Homo sapiens: one gene and its partners. The protein of the gene in region 1 purifies or fractionates together with the protein of each later gene. This does not show direct contact. Each region holds a gene or a part of one and is shown on either strand. Other genes may lie near its edges.

Region 1 (7,033 bases):
CTCAGACTGAACTATAGCAACTTGTACTTAAATATAAACCAATCTGGAACTTGTATAAATCAAAGATCAAAAAGAATGACTTCCCACACAGAGCAAAGGGGTTAAATATATTTTTATATATAAACATTTTAAGGAACCTACAAGTTCTGATACGCATTCAAAAGCCCTTACTAACTTCTCAACAACAAATGACCTGAAGATTCCCATTAGTCCTACAAGTAAAACTGAAATTTCTTACTTTTTTGGTGTCCAATTTTATTTCAGCGCAAAATAATTTATTCACAAGTTGAAAATATAAATCTGACTAGCACACGATGAAATGGAAGCTCCATATCTGATCAATGTTCAAGAATTCCTGAATGTAATAGTGAACTAATAAGTATGAAATTCAGGTAACATGCCATCAGGATTGAGGTCATATGCAACTCTGTCAAAAAATCTACTCTTCTCTCACAAATACTTTAAGATAAAAAGTTCCTGGTGTGCCCTATCATTATCACGATAAATCATGTTCACTGCATTTTCACTCTTTTAAACCTAAATACTCCTTAAAGATTTAGAAACTCTAGGAGATCCTGTCTTAGAGGCAACATAAAAAATAAAAATCATGGGAGAAACAGAAATAAAAGAAGAGTAGAGAGACAAAGAAAAGAAAAACTAAGGATAGAAGGGCAAAGGAGAGAAAGTAACAATACAGAACACACACAGATATCTAACCAGCCTACATAGCGTTATTGTTTATAAGTAAAACCTAAGACCCAACCAGACTGTGTGGATCTGCCTAAAGTAACACAGTTAGTGGTGGAACTGAGCCTGCCCTGAAATGTCTCTTTTTCAAGACTGTTTGAAAAACTGGAATGTGATCTTTGAAGAGCTAGAACTTATTTTTAGCACTTTGAATAAATCTATTTTACAAGTATATATCTAGCTTTTTTATACTGAAAAAGGATGCATATGATAATTATAAATACTAAACATTGGGAGGGAAATGGTGCCCACTTCAAATATACAGAGCTGTTTCCCTCATTAATGTTTTTGTGGCCTGTGTAAGTTTTGGCTTGGTTTGGAAAACATTATTGAAATTATGGCCATTATTCTGTTGGTATTTCCTGAACAGGCATTCCAGGGATTTAAAAGATATGAAAACATCCTAAAAATACACTAATTAGATTGTATTTTTGTTTGGACCTCTTTTTAATGATCCCTAATTCTGAACTATTAGGATTTTTGGCGCAGGGTAAAGAAAAAGAGATGGCATTTAGTTACGAGAACTCACTTGAAGGCTTGGTTCCATCACTAACTGTGTTATTTAGGCAAGTCCACACAGTGTGACTGGGTTTTAGGTTTTACTTATAAACAACAAAGACAAAATTCTTATTCTACTCTAGTAGAGATATTGTGAGGCACAAATGATAAAGGTCAAATTTAAAAAGTAAAATTTGCTCTGTAAATTAAGTGCTATATGCATTACCCTTTACATTCTCAGAAAAATTGGTTTATAATAATATTGGTAAGTAAGAACAAAAGTGACTGCTGCAAAGCTCAAAGTATTGTTCCATGTAAAACTAAATACCATCAGAAAATGTAGTTTATAAAAATACAGCTCTATTCTCAAAAACTGGTTCAAAATCCATTTGGATTGTTTTTCTGGTACACACTGGCACAGAATCATAATGAAATGTCAAGGAAGCATTAAATTTCAAATCCTTTGACTTATGTTTAATTAAACTTAATATATAAACTTCATTATCCCTCAGTATCTTAGGTCCCTGGATCATCTAAGGTCCAAATGCAAAATAATCTATACAAGTTTTTACTGGGGAAAAAAATCCAAGGAAAGACTACTAGCTTGAATAAAAATACACAGGATCAACTTCAAAAATAAGTAGACAGAGGCAACATGGAAAGTATGTCAATACTAATTGCAAGTAGTGTATAACCTAGTATCTTAAAAATAGTTGCACAGTGCTTGCTTCAGCAGCATATGTACTAAAACCAGAACAATACAGGGAAGATTAGCATGCCCCCTGTGCAAGGATAACTTGCACATTTAAGACTTGTTCCACATTTCTGCACAGGGCATATTTATGGCAGTGAAACTATTCTATACAATACAGTAATGAGGAATATTATGCATTTGTCGAAACCCATAGAAGTGTACAATATAGGAAACCCCAACGTAAACTACAGACTTTAGTTAATAAGTGTATCCATACTGGCTTTTCAATTGTTAACAAATGCACCATAGTAATGCAAGATGTTCACAGAACCTGTTATGAAGGGGAAGTGGGTATATGACAACTCTGTACTTTATGCACAATTTTTCTGTGAGCTTAAATTGCTCTAAAAACAAATGAAGTCTATTAAAAAAAAAAAAAAAGGCCCAATTTCAGATAATGTTAATACCCCAAACAAAACCAACAAAAAACCAAAAACCCAGTGGCATAAATTTAGGGCTCTTTCTAAGAGACCCGGGAGACAAAGTGGTAAAATACCTGCATCTTTCTGGAGAGTCTTCTCTATCTTTCCTCCGGAACTTGCTGATGGTGTCATCAATTGTGCTTCCAATTTTATCACTCAGCTCACCTAATTTATCACTGAATGGAAAAGCACTCTTGTTTTTATCCCACTCCTCATCCCATTTTGATTTGGGCTCAGGATCATATCTTTCACCTAGATAGAGCATTAAAAAAAGAAGCAATTCTAACGACATTAAATTCAAAAGGTATCTACAAGTCCTTATTTCTCAGGCTTTTCCTCATAATAAAATCATTTTCAAAGGAAAACAGAAAGCTCCCACAGTGCTGAATCAACACAATTACAGCAAGGCATAGCATGTAATGCCAGTCATTAAGTGGCAGGAATGCAGATTCAAAAGCTTTTGTTTATGAATACTTACACAACCTTAATGCACAGCACAGCATATCAGGAAATTCTTAAAGGCTACTGAAAGGAGTAGTGGAAAACACAAAACCAACACAAGCTATATAAGCAAAAGAGAAATGAAAATCTTTCTGTTTTCACAAAAGACACTTAATATGTTATATTTTATTCCTGTCCCTTAATGGTTTCCCAATTTTCAGAAAAGCATTGGATAGCAACAGTATCTTAAAAAATACAACTGAAGGAACTCCAATCTGAATGCTACATGTCCCAATAAGCTAAAAAGTCTCAATAACTGTCACGCCTCAGTATCAAACTAAAAAAATAATTCAATGAATTTTCAGGGGATGGGAAAGCATTCCGTAATTACTGTACAAAGAAAGGATTACTCTAACTACCAAAAACTACACATACTAGAATCAGGAAGTATGCTCAAACAGTAGTTCAGAACAGTGTCAACCAATTCAAACACCCATTCCAAACATATGCTGAGACTGGCGAAACCTAGAGCCTCTGTGTGAATTTGGGAATGCAGAGAATAGATCGTGGCAGTAAACAAAAAACCCAAAATGTCAAGATTTGTTTTAGTCCTTGCCCCTAGGGACCCAAAGGAGACATAGGAATTACAGACACAAAATGAAACCCTTCCATTTCCATGTCCAAATCCAACTTAAGAAGCAACAGTAGAAGGTACAGAGAGCACGTGAGGTATTTTTAAAAAAGAAAACATTAAAAATTAAGGCAGGTTGGAAGAAAATGAAAAGGACAATGAGAAACAACAAAATAACTAAAAAGTGGCTAATGGAGCTTTTGTTTTGAACTTTTGTTTACAGGATCTAAAAGGATACATAGCCTTTGGAGATTGAACAAAACGATTTTGCTGAATTGCCTCCTAAAATTGCAAGGCTAAAATTTTCTGTTACATGTTTAAGGATTTTAACATATTTACTGAATCTGGAAATGACCATCAACTTAAAGAAAACATGACAAAATGAAGTTTTCTAGACAAAATTTAAACCAGGATGGTTTTTTTAAAAAAAGTGATTTTCCAACAATGTGTATGTACATTTCAACAACAGTGTGATGAACCAGACTTCGGAAAGAAACAAATTTACACGAAAAATGGAAGTGGATGAAAACCAAACTGATTAGCATGGCATGGTGAACATCATACTGAATTACTGCTAAAGATACTGGATATTGGCAAGACATTATCTAATGTCAGAATGAAAAAACACAAAACTGGCCGGGTGCGGTGGCTCATGCCTGTAATCCCAGCACTTTGGGAGGCCAAGGTGGCTGGATCACTTGAGGTCAGGAGTTCAAGACCAGCCTGGCCAACATGGCGAAACCCTAAAAATACAAAAATTGGCGAGGCATGGTGGCTCACGCCTGTGGTCCCAGCTTCTTGGGAGGATGAGGCAGGAGAATCACTTGAACCCGGGAGGCGGAGGTTGCAGTGAGCTGAGATGGTAACACTGCACTCCAGCCTGGATGACAGAGCAAGAATCCTCAAAAAAAAAAAAAAAGAAAAGAAAAAGAAAAAACACAAAACTGCTAAGAGTGATTAGTTAAGTCTGAATAACATAAACCATGAACAATAACTTAGCAAAAGGATGTGATGCAAACACACAGGATATCCAACTCTATCTTTAATACAGATGCTGCAGTTAGTGCATTGTGACTGAGTTTGAAAACGTATTCAATTTTCTAAGTTTAGCTGATATAATTATATATCATGCTGGCAAAAAGAAAGATACAAGCAAGAATAGTGTGGAAATAAGTTTCAAATAGCAATTTCTATTAAAAACACATTAAGTTGCTACAACTACTTTGAAAAACCTGAAGAATAAAGTTACTACTTGGGTAAATAATCCAAAAACTTTGGACTTCCCCAAATAGAAACTTCAAAACATTATTTATATGCTTTAGGAGAAATATTTTTGCCCAATTCAAAAACTAACTTGTGGCCGACTCTGGTTGCACTGCCTATGAGTTAGCCCTATTTAAAAAAAAGAAAAAGAAAAAACTAACTTGTATTTGATGCTTCAATATAAAAAAGGGAATTTTTCTGCTGTTAGAAACATCCTTAAACAGCTAACTAAACGCAGTGTTTTTTCTTTGAGAGTGGGAAAGCAGAGGAATAAATGAGTAAGGATATTTTATATGTTAAGATTTTTACATGGTTCCATTGAAGGAGATATGAGAGCTCAATATAATCCAAATATAAACATATATGGGTGGGGGGAGCTGGAGAGCCTCAGTGAACAGCTGCTAAGATACACAGCACTGGCCAGTCTGCACATACACAAAATGAGCAAGAGATTGTCAGAGCTCACAGAAGACAGAACAAGTCCAAAGGGACATGCCGTGAAAGACAGTTCCTATTTTGTGTATCTGCTTCAAGCACCTATGCCCTATTTTAGAGAAACTATATTATTATATTAAAAATAAACATGAAAGATGAATGTTCTAGCTGCTCTTAAGTGTACTGGGAAGAATAAACAAAACAATAGGCCTAGATGAAAAACTGCGAGTATCGTCAGTCATCTTTTATATGTCAAAGTATGCAATGCTTAAATAAAGAAAGAGAGACTGAGGCTGGAATGACTGTCAGGAAGCTTATCTGGTTTGGGCCAAAAATACAGCTAAATTGGTTTCAAATTAGAAAGATGGATCTCCTGATCAAACTTTTTATTTTTATACTCTAAACTCTGAGTTATAGAAACTTTCTTCCCCCTTCTTTTTAAAATGGCAATCCTAAGAGGGAAGGGCATATATCTGTTTTAATCTCTGTATGACACCTCAAAATATGCAGTCATTTAATTAGCCATTAATGGTTAAAATCCTATTGCCGAACCCACAAGTTAAAAATAGGAAGATTCATGTGATAGTAGAAGTCAAGATTAGTACTGCGTGTATTTTAGTATTCTATGTATTCCTAGAAAAGAAAATTAGCATTTTGGTCTTTGGTATTTCACTGATTCTTAAAATATACTCAAGAAGCTAAGCTGATGCTTAGGTGTCAGCTTGTCTTTGATACTCACTGTATCTGAATCCTCCAACACTGTCTGAGGAAACCCCAACATACTTGTCTTTGTTCTTCTTTGCTTTCTTTCGCTCTTCACGAAGCCTGTCGTCATCCTGGGCAAATTCAACCAATTCCTTCACCTTCTGTCGAATATTTATACCTTGATCCTTACCATGCTCATCTATGAGGATGGTAAGAGATAAGCAAAACCTAAGAATTCACTTAATATGTATCAAGCTCTTTAAGATTAAAAAAAAGACACAAAAACTTCAACATAAGAAACTTCAATATTTAAAAAACAATAGAAAGGGGCAAGTTGTGCTATTTAACTTTGTCATTTCCTCTTCAGCAAATTCTAAGTTCTAAAATGGAATTTTGGCTTATAAGAGCATGTAAAGATGAACTAAAAAGGACCACAGATAATGGTACTATGCAAGGTCAATTAAAGATTGACCTAAAAAGGATTACTGATGATGACCACACAAAATAGACATATCCATAAGTGCTATTGTGTTTTTCTATCATATTTTAAGAAAACAAATCAAAAGAAGAACCACTTTAGCATGTTAATAACTGAAAAGCACACAAATGTCTTGGTTTCCCCAGTACACGTCTGGAACACTAATTATGAGGTTTTAGCATAGCTCAAAAACTGAATTTTTAAAGTGCTTACAAGTGGGGTACGCTACAAAATGAAATGTGCTTCATTTTCTAGCCTCTTTCACATTCAAAACACACTGTGGCCTTGCTGCCTTTGCACAGTAAATATTATTTGGTGGGAGGGAAAAAAACCCCAGCTTCAAACAGATGTGTGTGTTTTGGAGCTCTAACCTTTTCTTCCCATATGATTAAAGCTATTCCTTTATGGACACCACAGGGGACCAGTCTCCAGTGCATATTTTAATATAAACCCGAACACTCATGTTGTGTTGGTTCTGTTGTTATTAGCCAGTCTTTTCTGCAAGTTCTTGTCTTCACTAATTAATACTCTAGGGCCCCACGTCTTGGATTCTGCACTCGTCACACAACCAGCAACAGTCACATTCTAATTAGAGCAGAGAAGCTTCTAAGCTGGTTCAGGTGACTGACAACTCCAACTACTGTTTTAATTTGCTTATA
Region 2 (5,129 bases), on another chromosome or scaffold:
CCAGGATTGAGTGTCCTAATTCCTGACACTGATACGGAAGGTCCAGTTCTGATAGCTCAGAGAGGGGTGAGTTACCTTTACCAGCCAAAGCTACTGCTCTCTTGGCAGAGAGGAATTTCAACTCACTACTTAATTGCCATGGTATAGGGAAAGAACAAGGGGCTGGAAATCCAGACACTTGGAGGCTACTGCCGGTTCTGCCCAGGGTTCTCTAGTGGACATTTGCCAACCATGTCCTTTCTCCGTGTCTCAGTTTCTCCACCTGTGGGGGGAAAGCATGCCGCTCTGATGCTCTGTGACTCTAGAAGGTGCTGATCTCTGGAGTTCTCTCAGCTCACAGCTCTAGATGCCAGTGGAGAGAGGCCCCCTTTCTGACTGCTGGAGCCTGGGCCTCACCCTTGGGTATGAGAAGTACAGAATTTTCTAAAATACAGGAAGTGAAACAATTGCCTTTGGAAAACAGAAAACCTAAGTGTAACGCACCCTCCTCCAAGAGTGACGCACAGTAATGGCCAAGCAAACAGTCCTTCCCTGCAATATTTATTAAGGAATTTACACATACACAGGAGAAAGGCAGCCAGGAACTGTGGTTCCCACACATGAAATCTTTTAAGCAAAGTTTTCTTGTCTGAATTTTCAAGTGGGGTGAACAATGACTGAGAGGAAAGCTGTCCCGGCCCTCTGCCTCGTACACCTGGGAACGGTGGGGAAACAGAGCACCCTGGATACACAGGCATGAAAGAGTGATCAGCAGACCGGGAGAAGGGAAGGGAGAAAGGGAGTTATCAATGACATGGCGTTTTTTAAACCATAAGAAAAACACAACAGTTTTAGGCTGCTGATAAATTAATTCCTCTCTGTTGTAAACCTAAAACTAAACAAAAACAAAAATACCCAGAGCAGATGGGGAGAGGGTGGGAGGCGGAACACACACTCATACACACACACACACTCACGCACACACACAAGCAGTACACGTTAAGCTCTGCATTCCCACTATAGGGGTTGGTCCTCCAGCCACGGAGCCAGATCCTACTGAAGGCAGGGGGGAGGCGGGAAGGGATGTGTGTCTGTGTGTGGGATCTTCATAAAGTCTTTGGTGCTAATAAAGGCTGACTGAAGCAGCAAGTCCTGAAGCCCCAGATCCAGAAAGCAACTCAGGGCGAAGAGAGTAGTATTTTTGCTCATCCTCATAGGAGGGGGCTTGCCTCACCCCAGGGCTAGGGTCAAACTGACCCAGGACCCAGGGAGTATTTAATTTGATTTCAGTACTTGCTTCATTCCCATAAATCATGAGAACATGATGCTTTTCAAATTTAAACACTTAGAAACAGCTTATTAACACATATAGAAGGACCTCTAAGCTTTCCCCTGTTTGCCTAATATACAACACCCACAGACCCTTCTGAGAGTCTGACAGGAGCTTTAACCTTGAGGGAAGGGACTCAAAGGTGTGCACACTTCTCCCACAGTTTAAGTGCCTTCTGCCAACAACTTCTAAGGTGCTGGTGCCAGGAGAGGACTGGGGAGGACGTTGGGATGGCTATGGGGCATGTACAACATAAAGCAACAGAGAGGTCTTCATGTTTGGGAAGTGGCTGGGCAGGATGCCAAACCCCAAATGACTTATTGAGCAATTTCTAAACCAAACAGAGAGGTAGGAAAAGAGGATGGGGGTCAGGGGTGGAGGCTGTGGAAAGGGGAGAGCGAGGGCTGAAGAGAATGGCAGCCATACAGGTGTTTTGTTTTTATTTCCACATCTGAGGACTGAGAGTCTGATTTGCTGCCTGTCCATTTCCGCCACTCATTGACTGTCCATAGTTCATCATGCCATTGGCTCCATAGAAGTTCATCCCAGCCATCTGCTGGGTCATCTGAAAGGGAGAGAGGAGACTTTCAGACCAGGCTGTGGGCATTCCGCCAATTAGTGCAAAAGGCAGGGTGAGAGTCCCTTTCTCTGCCAGGATGGGGAGAATGAGACAAAGGGAAACTCTGTTATGGACAGTAAACCCTGGACCTTAGCAGTCAGATCATTTCAAGGCCACGTACGTGAATGACCTTTTGGGAGTGCAATGCTGACGGAGACTAAAGCTCAGGGAGGGAAAGAAGGCATCCTGGCATCTGGATCTAGTCGACAGAAAATCAGCATGAGTTCCTCTCTTTTTCCTTTCCAGTCCCTCATCCTAAATAGAAGGGGCCTATTGTTAACTTGCCTGGCCAATCCTAAAAGCTGAAAGGAAAGCCCCCTCCCCAGTGCTCCCGCCTCATCTTCAGCACAGCTATTACTGTCAGTGTCAGGGAAAGCGCTTGAGCAGGCTTGCTCGTTTGCACAAGGGGGAAAAAAAGGAACTGGACTGTTCAGAATGAACAAAGGCGGTGGCGGGGCGGGGGCGGGGGAAGACTAATGTGTCTTCAGTGTATAAGAAGGGAAGGAGCTGGGAGAAAACAGTCAGTGGAATAAGGCCTGGGGCAGGATGGGGCGGGGGTCCTTCATGAATCTGATGGAAAGACTGGCCCCTAGCAGTGAACAGAAAAATACTTTATGGAGAAAAATGCCTTGAATTTCCTAAGCCTAGTAAATTTTCTATATAAGTTATTTTTCTTTAGGAGAAACTATTATTTTCTTGTACCAACTTTTAAAGTAAATTTCAAACTGACATAAAAGTTGAAACAATAGTACAATAAAACCCATGTATCTTCTTCCTTAAATTCACCAACTGTTAACATTTGCCATATTTTCTCTCCCTCCCTATAAAAAAACTTACATTTTTTTGATGAGTATCAAAAGTTGCAGATTAAAAAAAAAAAAAAGCTGCAGCTATCACGACATTTCATTCCTAAGTCAGGAGGCACCTCATAAGAATGAACACTTTAACAGAACCACAAAACAATGAACACGCTCAAGAATTTTAACATTAACACCATATTCTAATGTACATGGCATTTCATTTTCAGATCTCTGTAGTCTCCTTTAAGCTAGACCAGTTTCCCTAACACTTCCTTCCATTTCTTCCTGACACTGACATTTTTAAGAACCCAGGACAGTTATTTTGTAGCATACCCCTCAATTTGGATTCATCTCATGTTTTCTCATAATTGGATCGAGGTTCAATATTTTTGGCAAGATTCTATGGAGGTGACACATGTCTTTCTTAGTACAAAATATCAGGAAGCATATGACATTACTTTGTTCCTCTGTCAGTAATTTTATGTTTGATCACTTGGCTGAGGTAGTGACTATATTTCTTTCATTATAATTAATAAATAATCTGAAGGGCATTTCTTTGCAAATGTGTCAATCCTTTGCTCTTTTTACAACTACTGTCATTCTTCTGTAAAGAAGGCTTTTCCTCCCTCCATTCCACACCTGGTTTTTAAAAAATATCACCGTGGACTCATGGTTTTGTTTTGTTTTTTCCATTCAGTGTGTCATAATCCATTACTGTTGTTACTCTTTTTGATGTTCAAATTGTCTCACATTTGGCCAGTCAGAGCCACTGGAAGTTGGCTCATGCGTCCCTCTGACATATTCCCATCAGACTTATAGCATTCCATTACTTATATAAATAAAAACGAAACAATGAAAATAAGTGAATTAAAATCTCCACTATGAAAGCTAGAAAATAACAAAGTAAACCCATAGAAAGCCTACGGAAATTGAGGTAGAAAACGGAAAAATGTAGCACCAATAAATCGAAATCCTGGTTCTTTGAAAAAAATTAATGAGACTGCTAGGCATAACTTTTGATAAATTTGAAAACCTTGGCGAAATGGAAAATCTAGGTAAATACAGTTTTCCAAAATTGACTTCCATAGAAGAAACAGAGAAAAGTATCAAAGATTTGCTACAAAAAAAGCAATAGTGCCCACAAACTTCACATGGGAATTCCACAAAACCTTCAAAGACCAGAGCTACATAAATTATTCTGGACCACAGAGAAACAAAAACATAAAAGTACTTCTTATAAATAAGTATAACCCTGATAAAGATAGCTATACATGCACATGTGCAGTACACATGCACCATACCACCTCTCTGGGGTTCCTTTGCCTGTCTCTTGGTTTTCACATTAAATCACTTTGTATTTCTTTGTACCTAGTGCAAAACTAGTGTTGCTTTGTTAGCCAATTTGAACATCATTTTCTTTTGATAGAAGAGTTGCCTACTGGTATGACTGGTATGTTTGGTCTCAACTCCATCATATTAGATTTTTACTGTGTTTATTGTATTTGCTGCACTTTGTAGTCTGTTTTTAAAAATTCTCAGCTGGGCGCAGTGGCTCATGCCTGTAATCCCAGCACTTTGGGAGGCCAAGGTGGGTGGATCACCTGAGGTCAGGAGTTTGAGACTAGCCTGGCCAACATGGTGAAACCCCGTCTCTACTAAAAAATACAAAAAAAATTAACCGGGTGTGGTGGCGGGTGCCTGTAATCCCAGCTACTCGGGAGGCTGACGCAGAAGAATCACTTGAACCCAGGAGGCGGAGGTTGCAGTGAGCCGAGATTGTGCCACTGCATTCCAGCCTGGGTGACAGAGTGAGACTTTGTCTCAAAAAAAAAAAAAAAAAAGAAAGGAAGAAAATTATCTTGGTATTCAGAACATTTCACGTGTTTGTTCTAGTGATTACCTTCATAGTAATACTTTTTAGCAATGTCCTTGGTCTCCTTTTTCCTTATTCAAGCTTCCGTGATTTGGTTTGTCAGCTTATTGCATCCTTCGATTTCTACTTCTTTCCCATACAATATTTATTATTCAACTTTTCTCCCTCCTCCTTCATTTTCAGTTGTATTTGTTTGTCAGAATATAATGTATATTCTGCAACGCTTGTCACCACCTTTGTTTTAGTCTTAGATTCTCAATTAAACATTCAATTCTCACCATCAGTTCTTTTGCCAAAAATGAAAATGACCCCAGTCATCTCTTAGGTGGATGAAGCTTATCTTCTGTTAGATTCCCCAGGAAAGTCTTGTAAGTGTGATATTCTCTGAGTTCTTGCATATTTATTTTTTACAGCCTTGATACCTGAAGGATAGCTTGGCTGGCTTGGTTGTAAAATACTTGTTGTGTCTTGCATACACTTGAGTGTCTTTAAAATACTACTCTCCTTGTTATTCTTTTTGTATTTTGC
Region 3 (7,033 bases), on another chromosome or scaffold:
CCCAAACTCCATCAATTTCTATGACTAAAAAAGTCTTACTTTCACATGACATCAACATGTGGATTAAATTCATAGTTTTATATAACAGTGATAGCAGGAGAAAGAACCATGTAGCAGCAAGCAAATATCAGACTTCCCTCTTATAAACTGTGTGATTTTTTTTTTTTTTGAGATGGAGTCTTGCTCTGTCTCCCAGGCTGGAGTACAGTGGCACAGTCTCCGCTCATTGCAACCTCCACCTCCCAGGTTCAAGCCGATTCTCCTAACTCAGCCTCCCAAGTAGCCAGGATTACAGGTGCCCGCCACCACACCCGGCTGATTTTTGTATTTTTAGTAGAGACAGGGTTTCACCATGTTGGCCAGGCTGGTCTCGAACTCCTGACCTCAGGTGATCCACCCACCTCAGCCTCCCAAAGTGCTGGGATTACAGGCATCAGCCACACTGCCAGGCCAACTGTGTGATTTTTAAAGTAAGTTACTTGATCTCCCTTTGTCTTTAGTTTTCTCATCTGTAAAACACAGATAATACTGTGTTTTCAGAGTTAAATAAAATTATATAATAAAATGCTTAGCATATAATAGCGATTTTAAAATACGTTTCCATCCAATTATTTTTCCTTTTAAAAAATGTTAACATCACCCTGCCTTGACCATTGTTGAAACAAGCATCAGTATGTTGCTACCATTAACTGTGCACAGTGGCATGCATCTGTACTCCCACCTACTCTGGAGGCTGAGGCAGAAGGATCCTTTGAGCCTATCAGGTCAAGGCTATACTGCATTACGATTGTCTCTGCGAATAGCCATTGTATCCCAGCCTGGACAACACAGCAAGACCTCATAAAAAACAAAACAAAACAAAAAAAAAAAGCCACCTTAGTCTGGGCGCAGTGGCTTACATCTATAATCCCAGCACTTTGGGAGGCCGAGGTGGGTGGATCACTTGAGGTCAGCAATTCGAGACCAGCCTGGCCAACGTGGTGAAACACTGTCTCTACCAAAAATACAAAAATTAGCCACGCGTGCTGACAGGCACCTGTAATCCCAGCTACTTGGGAGGATGAGACAAGAGAATCACTTGAACCTGGGAGGCAGAGGTTGCAGTGAGCTGAGATCATGCCATTGCACTCCAGCCTGGGCAACAGAGTGAGACACCGTCTCAAGAAAAAAAAAAAAAAGCCAACTTATTATCAATAAGGACATGAAAAGATACTCAATATCACTAGTCAACCTACTAGAATGGCTATAACTGGAAAAAAGGAAAACAACAAGTGGTGGCAAGGGTGTAGAAAAAGTGGAACCCTGATACTTTGCTGCTAAGGGAATGTAAAATGGTACAGCCACTTTGGAAAACACTTTAGTGTTTCTTCAAAAAATTAAATATGGAATTACAACAACCCAGCAATTCCACTCCTAGATATATACCCAAAAGAACTGAAAATAGGAGTACACTAATACTCATAGCAGCATTGTTTATAATAGCCAAAAGGTGAAAACAAATGCAGTATCCATCAATGAATTAATATACAAAATGTGGTACATTAAATATGATTCAGCCATAAAAATGATACATTCTACAACATGTATGAACCTTGAAAACATTACGCTAAGTGACATAAGTCAGACACAAAAGGCTAAATATTACACGATTCCAATCACACGAAAGATCTAGAATAGGTAAATTCACAGAGACAAAAAGTAGAGGCTGGGCACAGGGGCTCACGCCTGTAATCCCAACACTTTGGGAGGCCAAGGCAGGTGGATCAAGACCATCCTGGCCAACATGGTGAAACCCTGTCTCTATTAAAAATACAAAAATTAGCTGGGCGTGGTGGTACATGCCTGTAGTCCCAGCTACTCGGGAGGCTGAGGCAGAATTGCTTGAACCTGGGAGGCAGAGGTTGCAGTGAGCTGAGATCGTGCCACTACATTCCAGCCTCCATCTCAAAAAAAAAAAAAAAAAAAGTAGATTAGTGGTTACCAGGGGCTGGGTTGAGAAGAGAATGAACAGTCACTGCTTAACAGCTACAGAGTTTGTTTGGGATGGTAAAAAATACAAAAAATACAAAAATACAAAAATTAGCTGGGCATAGTGGTGCGTGCCTGTAATCCCAGCTACTCAGGAGGATGAGGCACGAGAATCGCTTGAACCCAGGAGGAGGAAGTTGCAGTGAGCTGAGATCGCGCCACTGCACTCCAGCCTGGGCGACAGAGCGAGACTGCATTTCAAAAAAAAAAAAGGCATTAGAAAGTCATCGTCTTGATCGAAATCTTCATATTGTTTCCCATTTTCAACAAACTTAATTCTAGAACCTTGCAGGTTTGACCATTAGCAAAAATTAGTAGTTTACATAAATTTAAACATAGGGGAAACTAGGTGCAGGGTTTAAGGGATTTCTCTGTACTACAATTACAAATTTTCTGTAAATTGGTAACTTCATGATTTTTCTATAAACTTTCTAAAAAAGTTTATTAATAAAAAAGAGACATGTTATTGAATCTCAAAAGTGTTATGCTAAATGAAAGAAGCCAGTCTCAAAAGGCTATATACACTGTGTGATGCCAATTTATATGGCATTTTGGGAAAGGCCAAACTATAGGGATAAAAAACAAATGAGCTGTTGCCAGGGAGTGAGGGGTGGGCTGAAGGGATTTACTTCAAAAGGGCATAATTATGGAAATTTTTGGAGTGATGGAAATATTCTATATCTTGTATCTTAATTGTGGTGGTGGCAGTTACACAACTGTCACTGTTTTTTGTAATTCATCTGTTTTAGCAGAACTATACAGAACTTTACACCTAAAACAGATGAATTTTACTAAGTGTAAATTATACCTTAATAAGTATGACTTTTCAAAAAGAATCCTTAACAATGGTAGTATCATGTCATACATTTCAATACACACAGAATTCTAGCCTGATAAATGTCATTATGAGATCTAGTCAGATGAAACTAGGCGATTCAAGCCGGGCACGGTGGCTCATGCCTGTAATCCCAGCACTTTAGGAGGCAGATGTGGGCGGATCACTTCAGGTCAGGAGTTCAAGACCAGCCTGGCCAACATGGTGAAATCCCGTCTCTACTAAAAACCCAAAAATTAGCCAGATGTGGTGGCAGACGCCTGTAATCCCAGCTACTCAGGAAGCTGAGACAGGAAAATCGCTTGAACCTGTGAGGCGGAGGTTGCAGTGAGCCAAGATCGTGCCACTGCACTCCAGCCTGGGTTACAGAGCGATATTCTATCTAAAAAATAAAAATAAAAAATAAGCCTTGAAAACCCCTCCCTAGGCCTGGTGTGGTGGCTCATGCCTGTCATCCCAGCACTTCAGGAGGCCGAGGCAGGCAGATCATGAGGTCAAAAGATTGAGACCATCCTGGCCAACATGGTGAAACCCCATCTCTACTAAAAATACAAAAATTAGCCGGGCGTGGTGACGTGTGCCTGTAATCCCAGCTACTTGAGAAGCTGAGGCAGGAGAATCACTTGAGCCTGGGAGGCAGAGGTTGCAGTGAGCCAAGATCGCACCACTGCACTACAGCCTGGTGAAAGAACGTGACTCCGTCTCAAAAAAAAAAAAAAAAAAGAAAAAAGAAAAAAAAAAAGAAAAGCTTTCCCTAAACCTACGTTTTATGTTCCCTTAGCTAAGTTTTCCCTTAAGTTGTTCTCTGTGCATTGAAATAACACTATCCTTAACACCTCATCATCTTCTTCTTCCTATAGTAAGGATTTACAATCTAAACTCTTTACTCAAAAATCTTGTCTAATTAACTCTTATCTATTTTCCATTTGACTATATTATCCCTTACATCTTTTCTTTCCCGTAACAAATTTTTTTAAATAACTGAAGTACTTTTTGCTACATGGATTGTAGTTAGTTGGTCTCTCCTAGTTGGAATATAAACTTCCCAAAGGCAGGAAGTAACTATTTCTTTATACACTCCAAAAATCTGGTTTGTACTATGTATCTAAACACTCAAATGCCATATGAAGAGATTCAATGAAAAGAATACTGGGGCCCGGGGCGGTGGCCCACACCTGTAATCCCAGCACTTTGGGAGGCAGAGGCGGGCAGATCGCCTTAGGTCAGGAGTTCAAGACCAGCCTGGCCAAAATGGTGAAACCCCATCTCTACCAAAAATACAAAAATTATCCGGGCATGGTGGCATGCACCTGTAATCCCAGCTACTCGGGAGGCTGAGGCAAGAGAATCACTTGAACCCAGGAGGCGGAGGTTGCAGTGAGCTGAGATTGCGCCATTGTACTCCAGCCTGGGCGACAAGAGTGAGACTTCATCTCCAGAAAAAAAAAAAAAAAAGAAAGAAGGAAGAAAAGAAAAGAATACTGGGGTGGACGTGGTGGCTTATGCCTGTAATCTCAGCGCTTTAGGAGGCCAAGGTGGGCCCAGGGGTTCAAGACCAGCCTGGACAATGTGGCAAAACCCCTCCTCTACAAAAAACACAAAAATTAGCCAGGCGTGATGGCACGTGCTTGTAGTCCCAGCTACTTGGGTGGCTAAGGTGGGAGAATCACCCAAGTGTGGGAGGCAGAGGTTGCAGTAGGCTGAGATGGAGCCACTGCACTCCAGCCTGAGCGACACAGAGAGAACCTCCCTCAAAAAAAAAAAAGAACAGAACACTGGGCCTAGCATTGTTAAGACCTGAATTCAAGCAATGCTTCTAATTTATTATGCTAAGTAAGTCACAACATCTTTGGGCCTCAGCAAAATCAGAATACTTGCTGTATTTACCTCACAGGTAATAAGGTCTTGGAGGGAAAACAGTGTTAGCTAAGCTATAACCATCAGTCAATCCAAGTGTAAAGATGTATTATTGTCAGTCATAGCTATCTTGTCTAAAATTAGCCACTAGTGTTTTTTAACCAAGCTCAGTGCACAGCAAATTAAGTGCACCAACATTGCACATCAGTCATATCAATAATGTAACTGTTATACTGTAATACTAACAGAAAGCCTTATGTTTAACAGTAAGCATGTTAATTATACACTATCTTAATGCAGTCTCAAGGTTAAAAGATAAATACTTGTTGCTAAGCCAACAATAACTGCCTTCAAATCTATTAAAAGAGGATTTATAAATCCCATTTGTTTTTGTACCCAAATAGCTAAGTTTAAAATTTTAAGAAATCCAAGAATTAGTTTAAAATTGTATAAATTCTCCTTTTAACTTTCTAAAATGTCCATATGCACTCTCATTGTGTTTTAAATCCATTACATTAGAAAAACAGACTGCAGGCCGAGTGCAGTGGCTCATGCCTGTAATCCCAGCAGTTTGGGAGGCCAAGATGGGAGGATCGCTTGAGGCCAGGAGTTCAAGACCAGCCTGGTCAACATAGTGAGACACCATCTCTATTAGAAAAAAAAAAGAAGAAAGAAAAAAAGAAATAACATACTGTAGAAAAAAAGGATACAAAGTATACATAAATGAACAAAATAAAGATAACAAAAATATGACTCCACTACAGATGCAGAGAAAACAAAGACATTTCTTCTCATCCCAACCATAATCCTATGAACAACCTGAAAGATACTTACAGCAATATTTGCAAGTATGACCATAATTCTCATCAAAAGAACATCATATATGAGTACCATCAAAATGATTACAAATTATAAATTACCAGTGATAATTTTCTCATTGGAGTCCCTTTTCCTTTTTCAAGCAGAGAACCAAGACAGAATAGCCTCTAGATCTTTTTTGTGGTGGTGGTTGTTTTTTGAGACAGTGTCTCACTCTGTTACCCAAGCTGGAGTGCAGTGGTGATCATAGCTCACTGCAGCCTCAAACTCCTAGGCTCAAGAGATCCTCCTGCTGGCAGGGTACAGTGGCTCACGCCTGTAATCCCAGCACTTTGGGAGGCCGAGGCGGGCAGATCACAAGGTCAGGAGATTGAGACCATCCTGGCTAACACCGTGAAACCCTGTCTCTACTAAAATAATATAAAAAATTAGCTGGGCGTGGTGGCGGGCGCCTGTAGTCCCAGCTACTCGGGAGGCTGAGGCAGGAGACTGGTGTGAACCTGGGAGGCGGAGCTTGCAGTGAGCGGAGATCACGCCACTGCACTCCAGCCTTGGCGACAGAGCGAGACTCCGTCTCAAAGAAAAAAAAAAAAAAGAGAGATCCTCCTGCCTCGATCCTCCAAAGCACTGGACTATGGGCATGCATTAATGCACCCAGCCTCTAGATCTATACTGTCCAATATGGCAGTTACTAGTTACATGGAGCTATTAAGTGCCTGAAATGTGGCTGTTCCAAATTGAGATGTACCAAGTGTAACATACACCAGATTTAAAAGATTTAGGGGAAAAAAATAATGTAAAATCTCCTACCTATGTGACTCCCATTTTTGGCTCACATATTTCTCATGTACAGCACTGCTTTATATATGTAGTCGAATCCTGAATAAGGAAAATGGATACCAGAAGTATTAAGCAGTTTGCTCAATATCTCACCGCTTGATAGAAGCAGAGCAGGGCCTAGAACCTGATCACGTTTATCCATCCTGCCCTTATGAATAGAAGGAATTAATCATTTAAGACTCAACTTGAGCATCCTCTTCCTCCTCAAACCCCCTCATTCCTTTTCCATCTCCCAGCCCAGGTGACCATATCCTATTTAGCCTGCCCTTATAATTATACTGTTATAAAATGTACGTTGTCTTCCAAATGGATGAGAAATTCTTGAGAGCAAGCACTGTCTCATTCATTTTTCTTATCCCTGGGAACCTTTGAAGTACCAGGCACTCTTTCAGGCCCTCCGGCACTCTCAGAGCTTTGAGAGGGTTAATTTTTAGCCCTATGCAGGTACAACTACTAAAATGAAATCACCTACAATGTGATGCACCACCAGAAACATCCACATTTATCATTTGCCTGTCTTAAATTATTTTTGGAATATGCTAAATTAATACAATGCATAGGCCAGGCGCAGTGGCTCACACCTGTAATCCCAGTACTTTGGGAGGGCGAGGCGGGCGGATCACTTGAGGTCAGGAGTTCAAGACCAGCTTGACC
Region 4 (7,126 bases), on another chromosome or scaffold:
ACTCCACCCTAATTTAAAGTCCATCTGAATTAAGTCAAAAAGCCTTTCTTGGTCATACCTCCTTAGCATTTCATAACACTTGGCACCTCTCCTATGGCATACATTATACCTTATGTTATACATGAGCACTCCTATAATTGACAAGATCCTCAAGAGCTTCTTACTCCTCTTCTGATGCCTGCAATGCCTAGCCCAGTGTTAAGTAGAGAACTAAGCATTAGATATGAGCTGCCCCAAATGTTTCCCACTTAGAAAGCAATGGAGGACTGTGTTTTCAGACAATCCCAAACTCCCTTAAGGGAATTAAGCACATATTCTCCTTTTGTCTCATATTTCTATGTCTTAGACCAATTTTTAAGTAAATTGCCTTCAAGATATCTAGACTGCTATTTAGTATACATAACTGTAAGAGTTCTGCTCCAGGGAGTTCCAACTTGTAACTGAACCCTGAATATTTAAGCTCTCTCTTTATGCCAAAAGACAATGGAAATTTATTTTTTGAATGTTAATAAAATTGAGCAAAACATAAAAATAACTTGCACTGAATTAAACATGTTTGAAGTAAAGATTCATTAATGCTAATGTGTCTGTCCTAAAAATTACATTTCAAGTTCTAAAGTCTTTGTGTACCCATTAAAAAGATTGAAAGTTTTATTTCAACTCTTTCTCACCTCAAAGACAAACTAAAATAGAACAGAGAAGGCTTTTCCTTAATTTTATTTAGATCCTAACTTGAAGGTATACTTTGTTATTTCTTCAAAAGGAGCAAAAAGAGTATGATTAATGAGCATGTTCTGACCAGATCTCTAAGTCCTACTCCAAAGCTGTAACAGGAGAGTACCATAGACCACACTACCAGCACCCTTCGTTAGCAGACCACAGGCTTTGTTTTGTATCTCCCTGAGCTAAGAATGGCTTTACATTTTTGTGTTTTGTAAACACAAGAAGAAGAATATGCAACAGAGAGCATATGTGGCCAGCAAAGCCCAAAATATTTACTATTTGTCCCTTTTCAACAGGATGAATTTGGGACTCCTCGTTGCCCTTCACTGGCACGTAAGACATCCCACCTTTAAAAAAGCAATGTAAAACACAAGACCATTTAAAAAGATCGAACTCGTTCAACTTAGTCATAGTTAATGCAGACTTAACTTCTAAAACAGAGACCTGTGTGTGGACATTTTTATTCTTCACAGAATTTTTGTTGGAAGAAACTTGCCTTCATTCTGTGGATGAACATACTTATGCTTGAAAATGGAAAGTGCCTGACCCAAAGTCACACTGCTGGTTAACAGCAGAGTAGGGTCAAGGACCCAGCCTTCAAAACCCTGGTCCAATGCTTTGCAGTCCACTACATACACCTATACATGTGGCTTTAAATTTTGGAGATGTGGATAACTAGCTTGGATCAATATAAAAGATGAAAGCTTAAAACCTGTTCCTAACATACTGTTTAGACAGACTCCTACTAGCAGCTATGAATCATTAAACAGAGTAGCATTAATGCTCACCACATACATTAGATAAGAACTTCTAGGAAGTCCTCTGTTTCAAAAGCAGATATGATAAAAAAAGGCTTTAAACCTACAGGGTTTGCTCCTCCAGGGCTTCAGATTAGGGCAAATAACGCACTTCTGCCTACCAGCTGTTCAATACTCATCTCCCAACCCAAATCCACAAGTTCCACAAATGCTTTCGAATGCCTGTTGAAAAACATTGTTCAGTCTCATCACATACACACGTTCTACAGATAATTACAACTTCTTGTATGCCTACTTGTAAAACTACTAAGTAGTTCACATTTTAAAAAATTTCCCTAAGAATTTTGCTTCCTTTAAAAAAACTGCTTCTTCGATTCCTAAATCTATAGAACTCACTTTATCACGTCTTCTCGGTTAATCCAAGAATTAAAAAAACCATTTTGCCCATACTGATAACTTTACTACTCTGCAGGATCCGAAAAGCTCTCTATATGCCAGGTTCTAGGATTCACACACATTAACAACCTAAGATCCTTCAAGTGAGATAGCTCTTGCAGTACAGAGCACAGATTCTCAGGGTCGTGGGGGATACCGGCTGAGGCTCTTCAGACCCCCACCACAGGAGTTCCGTCCTCTAAGGGCAACCCCCTCCCCCTTGGCCGCGGCGCGAGTCCAGGCCTCCCGGGCACCTGCGGCCCCTGCCCGCTGCGGGGACCCCCCGAGGAACCAGCCCCCCGCCGGGCCCCAAGGAATCGGCGCCCACTCCCACTCCTGGAGGCCAGTGACTGCAGGCCTAAGCCGCCCGCCGGCCCCGGGACGCGACGTTACCTGTAGGACCACGTCGTTCGGCAGCTGCGCGGCCCGGAACAGCTCCAGCACCCGCCCGTTGACCACCACCTTCTTGGTGCTCTCAATGTCGCAGTAGGAGAAGAGATCTGAATAGTATTTCTGCTCCGCATCGCTCAGCGTTAAGCCTTCCATCTTCGCCTCCGGCTCACGGCCGCCCCGCCCCGCATGCACTACTCGGGGCCCGGCCCCAGGAACCTGGGCCGGCAGGGGCTGCGCGTGGCCCGGCCTCCTGCTAGCTTCCCGAAAACGCCGGCCCCGGCCTCACACGCGCCAGGTGCGCCCGAGCAACAGGGCCCGGAGGTCGCGAGGAGGGGGCCCGGCTGCGCTCGCCGCGCCGCTGCCTGCGAGGCCCGGCGCGCGGCTGCGGCTGCGGCTGCGACTACGGCTCCGGCTCCGGCTCCGGCTCCGGCCGCGGGGAGGGTGCAGAGAAAGAGGCGGGGGCCGCGGAGGCGCGAGGCACTGGCGGACTCCGCCCCCGCCGCGGGTTCGAGTCTCCCCGGCTCCCTGCCGATTCCCCCAGACTTCCCGCCTCGGCTTCCCCTTCCGTCCACGCCTCCGGAGCGGCAGCGCTTCCCGGAAAGTTGTGGGGCTTCGAACCTAAAGTTTCGGGGGATCTGGGCTGAGCGTGGCCGCCGCTCCGCCTCCCTCCGCCGCCATTTACAGTGCCCCGGCCCGGCCCCGACGCGCCCGCACCAACAGTGACAGCGGCGGCCGCGCTCCAGACCCGGATGTGAGGCCGGGAGGAGAGAGCGCGAGAGGGAGAGAGAAACACCCACCGGGCTGGCTTGGCCGCTCCCGGGAGAGGGAGGAGGCCGCAGCGCCCCCTGGTGGCCGGCGCCCGGCGGCGGGATGACCGAGCCGCCCTCTGCGCGGAGATCTCAGCAGCAAGACCCCCGGAAAGGGGGGTGCAGTGGGAAACAGCCGGCAGCTCATTAAGACCGAGATAACTAAGATCCGGGTTGCAGTTTTTATGTTTCGCAGTTTCTGGTCCTAAGCGTCTGAATAATTGGATTGAAAGGGGAGCCTTGTTCAGGTTATTATCATTCTATCTGTACCTTTTCGGTACAGATGAAGATAAATGCAGTATTTCCATCTGTTCTGAAGGGCTATGAACATCCGGGCTATGAACATCCTGGCTATCCGGGAAGCCTCCACGTAGACACCAACATTGAGGCTTCATCTCACTCGTGCTTCAAGCCATGTTTACCTGAGAAACAAAATGTGCTGAATAGAGGGGAAAACTGGCAAAGTTGTCCTCTTTGTTCACCAGGTCATTCCGGTCACTGGGAACTTAATACTCTACATTTATACCTTCAACTCTATCAACTCATGTAGGCCCGGGGCTGCCCACAGGGGCTGCCTTCCGTATTTTCTCCTTTATGAAAATCATGGAGTGGCGCTCTTTTAATCTGCACCTGTCCCAGAGAGGGGATTCTTCAGCTATTTCAAGTAGAATATCTTAAGAATTTATACTTAGCAAATATAAAATACTTCAAAGACGGGAGCTAAGGCAGAATTACCCAGAGTTCTGGTTTTTATTTTGTCTTCTACAAGTTGTTTCCCAGAGTGCGGATCCTATAAATGACACATATGAGGAAATTATTACAGGTTCCCAGTCATTTATCTGTAATTGCAAAATTCAAAGCGCACTGAAAACCCAAAGACTTTTTTTTGTAACCCTTTGGAAGTAAAACCTGCCCTGCCTCATTTGGAGGCAAAATCTAAACTAAGCTTGCATGAAGCTATTTCTAGCCTTTATGGATCCCACTTAGTGTCAATATTTACTCATTTCACTCCAGGTCTTTGTAGAATGTTAATATGTACACAGTCACAGGCATTCTATTATCTTTCTATTTTTTAAGAAAGATAAGGGATTTTAGACCTGTCAATGTCTTCTGACTTGACTAGTAGTATTTGATAAAGGTAAGTATATACTATCCATTAAGCTTATTTCCCATCTCTAAGACTTTCAGTTTGCTACAGCAGCCCCTCATGTGTCCTTTCAGGGCACCTGCAGCAAGTGATCAGACCCCCCCCAGACAGCTGCCTTCCAAAGGTGTAAACAGAAAGAGCACAATGGGGTAGGGATTGGCTCACAATTGTCTTTGCATCTTTTTCTCTGCCACCTCTCCTAGGCCTTGCAGCTCTTGTCGGCCCCAGGGCCTTTGTTCCTGCCATCTAAAATAGTCCTTCCACAAACCATGGCATGGCGTATTCTCTCATATGGTTTCAGGTCCCTGCTCATATGTCACCTCCTCAGAGCAGCCTTCCTGCAACAGCTGCTGTAAAATAATCCCACCATGCACTATCCCCTTATCTGAATTCCTTTTTTTTCTCTTTTGAGACAGAGTCTCCCACTGTCACCCAGGCTGGAGTGCAGTGGCATAATCTTGGCTCACTGTAGCTTCGACCTCCCAGGCTCAGGTGATTCTCCCACCTCAGCCTCCCAGGTAGCTGGGACCACAGGCCCAGGCCACCATGCCCACCTAAATTTTGTGTATGTGGCTTTTGTAGAGACAGAGTTTTGCCATGTTACCCAGGCTGGTCTCAAACTCTTGGGCTCACCCACCTCAGCCTCCCAAAGCGCTGGGATTACAGGCATGAGCCACTGCACCCAACCTGAATTCTTTTTCTTTATAACACTTTTCACTATCTGACATTACATATATAGCTGTTACATTTTTAACGGCTAATTATTGAATAATTACTAAGTTTCAGGCATTGTTCTAAAGCTTTACACTAATAACCACATTATTCACAACAACCCTATTAAGTGGTACTACTAGGTTTTTTTTTTTTTTTGACAGATTAGGAAACTGAGGCAAAATGGGTTAAGTATTGTGTAAGTCATGTTGCTATTAAATACCCGGATCTGGGATTCAAACTCCAGGCTGTCTCAACTCTAAAAATCACTACCCTATCTTGCCTGTCTAATTTCTTTGTTAAGTTTGTTATTAAGAAAATATTTCTTCACCAGGCATGGTGGCTTATGCCTGTAATCCCAGCACTTTGGGAGGCTGAGGTGGGTGGATTGCTTGAGCTAAGGAGTTCAAGACCAGGCTGGGTAACACGGTGAAACACCATCTCCACCAAAAATACAAAAATAGCCAGGCATGATGGTGTGCACCTGTGGTCCCAACTACTCGGGAGGCTGAGGTGGGAGGATCACTGGAGCCCAGGAGATAGAGGCTGCAGCGAGCAGTGATTGTGCCACTGCACTCCAACCTGGGAGACAGGACGAGACTCTGTATCAAAAAAAAAAAAAAAAAGAAGAAGAAGAAGAAAGAGAGAGAGAAAGAAAGCAAGCAAGCAAGAAAAGAAGGAAAATATTTCTTCATTGCCACAGTGCCAAAGCCCAGTATGTGACACATAATGTGTATCAATAATAATTTGTTGAATGAATGAAAGCATCAATTTTGACATTGATGTGATAAGCCATTCAATACAGTAAGTCCTCAATTAATGTTATTGTGGATAGGTCCGTGGAAACTAATTTTAAGCAAAACAAGGTATTCTAACCAAGTAGTTTAGCTTCAAAAGAAAACTTTTTTCTTTTCTCCTTTCTTGCCAGTCTCAAGCTGTAACCTTGAAACAAACTGTAGAAACCTTTTCTCTTTAGTCTTAAAATATAGCCTTGAAACATACTTTGAAACTCCACTCCCTTCTATTTCCCACAATGTACTCCCTTACCCAATGCACATTTATCTAACTGTATGCTTCTTAAAAATTCCAGGGGCTAATTTAAAATGAACTAGGCACAAAGGCCCAGCTGCAGAATTGTCCCCCACTTAAAGATTGCCTCAAGATAGATAATCTGCAGCCTGGCCACAGGCGAGATGACGCCAGCCTGCATTTTAGATGGACCATAACTCAAGATAGGCGTTGAAGCAAGACACACAGCCCGGGCTCCCGGCACAACTCTTGCATGTTTCCCATATCAAGGTTCCCTTTTTGAAACCTCTGCCTTCAGCCCAGACTTTTGAAGCAGTTTCCAGAGGTGTAAGCTGGCTGTTTCCCCACTGCTAGCTTTGAAAAATAAAGTCACTTTCCTTTCACCCCTTGTTATTGGGTTTGCAAAGGGCAAACAGCCAAGGCTGCACTTGGTTACGGTATCACGAAACCAATTTTATCATAGGCTAATTGATAATTTGCTACAAACAAGAGTTAAGTTGCTGTGACATATTTCTGGTCACAGAATCACCAAATTTCTAAATCGAGACCAAAACACTTCTAATATTAAACATTTAAGTAAAGGTAAGCTACACATGCAACTAAAATGATTAACTAAAAAAAAAATAACTACTTACCCTATTTTTGGTATATTGGTGAGTTACCACGGTTGTCCTGGTGGTGGGTTAAATCAAGGAATAAATGTCTGCAAAGTGAAGTTCAAAATCATCACAAACATGGTGGCTTGCTGAGCTCTCTGGCACCACCTTGTTTACTGTTTTGCATCTGTATGATCATCATATGCTTTACACATTTTTATTTTTCAGTCACTTATATTCATTCATTTTCCTACCTACTTATTCCATTTCGGGGTTGTGGGTAGCAAGAGCCTATCCCAGTGGCTCATGGGACAGGTAGAACCCAGCCCCTGTCTAGGATGTGATTGCATCACAGGGTATACACACACACACACACACACACACACACACACACACACACACATCCACACTCACTCAGACTGGGACCATTTAGACACCCTGACTTATCTAATGTGCACATCTTTGGGATGTGGAGGGACACCTGAGGATTCAGAGAAAACCCACACAGACATAGGGAGAGCATGCAGA

The links.
Region 2: the proteins of CLINT1 (region 1) and SMAP2 purify together in Homo sapiens (affinity purification with mass spectrometry; 2 studies listed by BioGRID and IntAct, with this or other methods). This does not show direct contact.
Region 3: the proteins of CLINT1 (region 1) and PIK3C2A purify together in Homo sapiens (co-immunoprecipitation; 3 studies listed by BioGRID and IntAct, with this or other methods). This does not show direct contact.
Region 4: the proteins of CLINT1 (region 1) and REPS1 purify together in Homo sapiens (affinity purification with mass spectrometry; 2 studies listed by BioGRID and IntAct, with this or other methods). This does not show direct contact.

Annotation. Positions count from the first base shown.
Region 1 is NC_000005.10:157,807,133-157,814,165, forward strand, and holds part of CLINT1 (clathrin interactor 1), read right to left. Parts: intron 6,096-7,033; coding exon 5,931-6,095; intron 2,674-5,930; coding exon 2,496-2,673; intron 1-2,495. UniProt on the Homo sapiens protein: Binds to membranes enriched in phosphatidylinositol 4,5-bisphosphate (PtdIns(4,5)P2). May have a role in transport via clathrin-coated vesicles from the trans-Golgi network to endosomes. Stimulates clathrin assembly.
Region 2 is NC_000001.11:40,418,721-40,423,849, reverse strand, and holds the end of SMAP2 (stromal membrane-associated protein 2), read right to left. Parts: intron 1,875-5,129; coding exon 1,749-1,874; 3' UTR 528-1,748; downstream 1-527.
Region 3 is NC_000011.10:17,197,958-17,204,990, forward strand, and holds part of PIK3C2A (phosphatidylinositol 4-phosphate 3-kinase C2 domain-containing subunit alpha), read right to left. Parts: intron 6,419-7,033; exon of another isoform or gene 6,350-6,418; intron 1-6,349.
Region 4 is NC_000006.12:138,985,221-138,992,346, forward strand, and holds the start of REPS1 (ralBP1-associated Eps domain-containing protein 1), read right to left. Parts: upstream 3,034-7,126; 5' UTR 2,463-3,033; coding exon 2,310-2,462; intron 1-2,309. UniProt on the Homo sapiens protein: May coordinate the cellular actions of activated EGF receptors and Ral-GTPases.